2 separate regions of the Homo sapiens genome follow, and region 2 is linked to region 1. Evidence: fine-mapped expression QTL. A gene starts in region 1. The other region holds a variant in brackets. All regions are shown on one strand. Distances are between the middles of the regions. Region 1 holds the start of QSOX1 (quiescin sulfhydryl oxidase 1). Region 2 overlaps TOR1AIP1 (torsin 1A interacting protein 1).

Region 1 (2,916 bases):
TCAAGATAAAAGGATAGGAATTTTACATCACCGTTTAATTTGTAGTTTTAAAATATGTAGACATGATATGTGGGCCTCCATTTGTACTACTGACTCAGTTCTTGCAAATATTAAGGGTAGACCTGTCCCTGATCTTCGTGTGTAAAATAGCACCTCCTCTGCCACTCTATTCTTACCCCAGTCTACATTTCTTCATAACATCGGTCACCATCTGATCTACATTTACTTATGTATCATCTCTTTACCCCCACTGGAATGTAAGTTCCACGTCCCTAGAGTCTATATTTTGTTTACTGCCTTATCCTTATACCTAAACAAGTGCCTGGCATGACACCACTCAGTAAAACTTGAATAAATGAATAACAAATCTAGGCTCAAAGCTCTTACAGGTGAAAGGGGCTAACCTGGCAGTCACAAAGGAAAAATATCACTGTGACAACCGTCTGAGGAGCACCTTCTCCCCTTAAAATAACTCACTCAAAACAGTGGAGCTGCAAAGGTGACCAGAGAAAATCCATTAACACCTTAGTGCCCATGACACCAGGTGAGTTGATCGGGCTACTTGCGAGAGGGACATGTGAGTGAGCGTGGAGAGCTCTGAGTAGGCTGAAGAGCTGGATGTGGGGGATCTGGGCTGCTGGGAACCCCGAATGTTGGAATCGCCCTGACAACCTTATGAGGGTGGTCAGATATGGGTCCTGAGGAAACTGATTCCACGGCAACTGCCCGCCAACCCAGCACACCCCACAGTGAAGAGGGGCTTCTGATCCATGAGTAGGGCCCCTCAAATGATGTTCCCCTTTAGATGGTCATGGTCATCAGCAGGGGTGGGTGCATCGATCCTGTGGGGTCTTGGTGGTCGCAGACCAAGCGTCCCTCTTCTCACATCTAATTCACAACGTCTCATCGCTCCGCGGGAGCCCAGGAACTGCCCTACAACAGCCGAAATCCGGGTCGTCTATTCCAACGGACTCCTCTTCCGTTGGATACGGGGGCCGTGAGAGGCCAAACAACCTCCGCGAGGCTACCCCCGCAGCGACCGCTCGGCGGGCGCTCCATTCCTTTACCGGACTGTACACCTCGCCTCCTGGGGCCTGAGGCGGGAACCCGGGTCGCGCTGCTCCGAGGCCTCGGCGGACCGCGAAAGGATGGCTCACCACCCGGCCAGGGCCAGCCCCTGCAACAAGCTCAGCCCCGCCCGCTCCCGCGCCCAGGAGCGGCCGGCGGGGCGGGGTGGCTGGGCCGGCCTCGGGGGCGGGGGCTCGGGGGCGGGGGCTCAGGGGCGGGGCCACGTGGCTCCTCCTTGCGGGCGGAGGCAGGCGGTGCCGCGGCGCCGGGACCCGACTCATCCGGTGCTTGCGTGTGGTGGTGAGCGCAGCGCCGAGGATGAGGAGGTGCAACAGCGGCTCCGGGCCGCCGCCGTCGCTGCTGCTGCTGCTGCTGTGGCTGCTCGCGGTTCCCGGCGCTAACGCGGCCCCGCGGTCGGCGCTCTATTCGCCTTCCGACCCGCTGACGCTGCTGCAGGCGGACACGGTGCGCGGCGCGGTGCTGGGCTCCCGCAGCGCCTGGGCCGTGGAGTTCTTCGCCTCCTGGTGCGGCCACTGCATCGCCTTCGCCCCGACGTGGAAGGCGCTGGCCGAAGACGTCAAAGGTGAGAAGCGGGGGCGGCCCGCTCCCCCGTGCCCCGCCGCCCGGACCCCTCCACCTGCCCGGTGGGCAGCCTCCTACTCCGGGAGCGCGTCCCTCTTCCAGTCACCTCCGCCCACCTCTTCCTCTCCGCGCATCCCACGCCCACCACCTTCATGTTTCTCAGCTCCATTTTTGCCTCCCGCTCCCTTGCCTTTTCCTCTTGGCCCTCATCCCGAGCTTCTTTCCCTCTCCGCGGCCTGGGCCCCCAGACCTGCCCTGCTCGCCCGGTTCGTCCCCCGCCAGGTTACTGCCTCCTTCCCTGCGAGAGGTCTCCTTTGTTCCTTCCTCCGCATGGTCCGCTGACACCTTACCGTTTCCTGGGCCAGCCTTGTGGCAGTCCTCTTCCTCTCGTCCAGGGACCCATGTCATCTTCCTGCCAGGTTCCCTAGCTGCTGTGGGTCAGTGCTGGGGAGAAAAGGGAACGGACATCCATTTTGCCTCCCTGCCACCTTTCTCCACTCCCTCGACTGGTTGACCAGGTGGTACATAGACTTCCTTTCTCATTTTTGTCTTTGATGTGGGTATGTCCACCTGGCAGTTTTCCTATCTCTGTTCCGGGCCTCTCCTGACCTGCCGCCTCCAGCTCCTTAGCTTCTGGGCCACATCCTTCTCTCTCTTCCCCCGCTCAGACCCTTATATTTTAAACCCATGCACCCAGAGGCCTTTGGTGCGTGTTTGGCTCTTGCTCCATGTTCCCAATCCCTGGTTGGGGCACCAAAACTATATTTCCTGAATTCCAAGACACCATCAACTGTGAGACACACTGTTCATTTTATGACAGCCCAAGGGGTAGAAGGATAGGAAAAAACCACTACATGTATAAAGATTTGAAGGTGAACTCTATTACAGAAATGCTAAAATTTTGAAACACTTAAGACTTAGAGTCGAGGAAATATGGTAATAATAGTAATTAATATTTACGGAGCACCTATCATTTCAGGCACCTTACTAAGTACTCGGCATACATTGTCTCATAGTTTCCTTTCCACAATTTAAAGATTCCTGTGGTGTCACACATCCACCTAATCCAGGTAGTGGGTATTTGGCGGGCAGGAGTGGTATAGTGATAGTGATTTGTTCCTGACTTGCTGCCTCTGAATGGAGTTACTTCCTGACTCTGGTGCTAGGTCGCTAGCACGGCCTCCTACCCTGAAATGGTCATTGAATGAGAACTGTGGGCATCTTTGGAAATAGGCCTTTTTCTAGAGAAAGGGGAACTGGAACCAT
Region 2 (2,916 bases), 250 kb before region 1:
AGACTCCATCTCAAAAAAAAAGAAATACTATTTAGAAATGAAAAATGAGTTAGTTCATTGTATCCTAATGAAAAGTTGATCAAGATATATTTCATTGACTTTAAGATACTATTGATTTTATGTATCAATGAGAAAGAAAAACCATCCAGTTAAACTATGCCATACCATTAATTAAAAGATATATCTGTAGATCAAAGGGCATTTTTTAAAAAGTATGTCTTAGAATTTGATGAAAATATTAAAACGTATGTATCCACTTTTTTAAAAGTATATTTTTAGTATAGGCTGAAAACAAAGCTGAGAGAATATCTGTCTTATTTACCATAATATTTCTATGTTCAATGTTTTGCACATAGTAGATACTTAACAGATAGATATTCATGAATTTTTAAATTAAGCATTTCTAGAATGGCCCCTTTTTTTAAACAGCTAGCACATGTTTGTATTCAGAAAAAGTTGAAAATAAATAAATGTAAATCGATACTTGTATTTATCATCAAAGAGTAACTCATTTTCTCAGGGCAGATTTGAAAATTTACCTTGTTATAATTGTAATGTCATTTTTTAGTCATCCCATTGTGTCATTTTACAGTTATCCTTAAATACCACCTCAAAACCTGAAGTAGCATGTTTTACTTCATAGCTACTTTGCAATGTCCATAAATCTGCATAGATAGTACATACCATTTCTTTATGGTATGGTATGTGGTATATGATATGGACTGCCTGGATTTGTATCTCAGCCCAACTACTTTTAGATATATAATTTTGGAAAAATTACCAATTTTGGTTCCCCCCCCCCCTTTTTTTTTTTTGAGACAGAGTCTCGCTCTGTCGCCCAGGCAGGAGTGCAGTGGTGTGATCTCAGCTCACTGCAAGCTCCGCCTCCCAGGTTCACGCCCTTCTTCTGCCTCAGCCTCCCGAGTAGCTGGGACTACAGGCGCCCACCACCACGCCTGGCTAATTTTTTATATATTTAGTAGAGACGGGGTTTCACCGTGTTAGCCAGGATGGTCTCGATCTCCTGACCTCATGATCCACCTGCCTTGGCCTCCCAAAGTGCTAGGATTACAGGCATGAGCCACCGCATCCAGCTGATTTTCCCTTATTTATAAAATACGAACAGTAATAGCATCTACCACATAAGAATTAAGCAAAATTGGCTGGGCATGGTGGCTCATGCCTGTAATCCCAGCACTTTGGGAGGGCGAGGCAGGCAGAGCATTTGAGGTCAGGAATTTGAGACCAGCCTGGCCAACATGGTGAAACCCTGGTCAGGAGTTTGAGACCAGCCTGGCCAACATGGGGAAACCCTGTCTCTACTAAAAAGACAAAAAATTTGGTCAGGCATGGTGGTGCACACCTGTAATCCCAAGTACTTGGGAAGGTGAGGCAGGAGAATATCTTGAACCTGGGAAGCGGAGGTTGCAGTGAGCTGAGATTGTGCCACTGCATTCCAGCCTGGGTGACAGAGTCAGACCCTGTCT[CA/C]AAAAAAAAAAAAAAAAAAGAATTAAACAAAATTATACTTGATATATATGACTATATGTAGTTTTTATTTTGATGGTACTGATCCTAAACTAACTCCTTATTGTTGCCCAATTCCTAAACATTTTGAAGTTTAGAAATGAGGGGGAAAGAAATACACACACACTTTATATATATATATATATATATATATGTATATATATGTATATATATAGTATATGTATGTTTTTTATATATATATACTTTATATATTTATATGCTTGGAATTGATGAGAGAATGTTTTTTGTCTGTTGTTTGTTTTTAGTATCCACAGTAAACAAGCAAAATGTCTGTGCAACATCTTTTTTGTTGTTATTTTCAAGTATTCTATGACCTTATCCCTGTTTTCTGTTTCAGGTCAAAACTTCACAGCTCATGATAAGCAACCTTCAGTGCTAAGTAAGTAGTTGGTTGTCTGCTCTTTTTTCAGCCAATCAATTCTTTTCTCTTTTTTTTTTTTTTTTTTTTTGAGACGATGTCTTGCTCTGTCGCCCAGGCTGGAGTGCAATCTGGGCTCATTGCAAGCTCCACCTCCTGGGTTCACGCGATTCTCCTGCCTCCGCCTCCCAAGTAGCTGGGACTACAGGCGCCCGCCACCACGCCCGGCTAATTTTTTGTATTTTTAGTAGAGACGGTGTTTCACTGTGTTAGCCAGGATGGTCTTGATCTCCTGACCTCATGATCCACCTGCCTCGGCCTCCCAAAGTGCTGGAATTACAGGTGTGAGCCACCGCACCCAGCCTCAGTCAATCAATTCTAACCTTGCCTTATTCTCCCAACAAAAGTTGTAATAAGATTTTAAGTCATTTTACCCCTCTTTACCTTTTTAATTCACCACGGATTGGTACTACCTATAATAATTACTCTGTGATATGGAAATGTGTTCAGGGCTATTTTACCACAAGTAATTTGTATTATGTGATAATATATTTATTTGCTACCTGCTTTGCTGTAGGAAGTGGTTCATCCTCACTGATACGATCCTTTGAAATTATCTTTTACTTATAAAACTATTGCTTTTATTGTTTTCTTCCCCTACTTTATTTTGTCTTTCTGATAGATTAATTTTATAACACTGGAATATGGTATAAACTTTCAAAGTATGGGAAATTATCTTTTGATATATGTATTTGCTTCAGGCTCAGGATATCAAAAAACTCCCCAGGAATGGGCCCCACAAACTGCAAGAATAAGGACCAGGATGCAAAGTAAGTAGATAAATCTCTGTTATTGAAATAATCTTGTGTATTTGCTATGTTTTTCTTGACAAAAATATTTAGTTCTTCAGATAAACATTTAGGTTGTTTGTGATTTCACTAATAAAGTACAGCTATGATTACTAGTTTAGTAATTTCTTGGACTGGCAGCACATGGGCTGGGTGTAGAATGTA

Evidence for each region. PIP is the estimated chance that this variant, and not a neighbour inherited with it, causes the effect.
Region 2: its variant is fine-mapped to the expression of QSOX1 in whole blood (INTERVAL, PIP above 0.99).

What each region holds. Positions count from the first base shown.
Region 1 is chr1:180,153,522-180,156,437 of GRCh38, forward strand. It overlaps QSOX1 (quiescin sulfhydryl oxidase 1), which reads left to right and starts at 1,348. Exons shown (of 12, transcript NM_002826.5): 1 at 1,348-1,651. The coding sequence starts at 1,387. LOC105371636 (a long non-coding RNA gene) reads right to left here and starts at 1,317. Exons shown (of 2, transcript XR_001738314.3): 1 at 478-1,317. RefSeq lists a silencer at 1,023-1,342 and an enhancer at 1,523-1,622.
Region 2 is chr1:179,905,941-179,908,856 of GRCh38, forward strand. It overlaps TOR1AIP1 (torsin 1A interacting protein 1), which reads left to right. Exons shown (of 10, transcript NM_015602.4): 7 at 1,883-1,924; 8 at 2,665-2,733. Among named protein-coding and RNA genes, the nearest start is that of TOR1AIP1, 25 kb to the left of the region's middle. RefSeq lists a silencer at 2,896-2,916. The variant CA/C (reference allele first, on the strand shown) is at 1,488.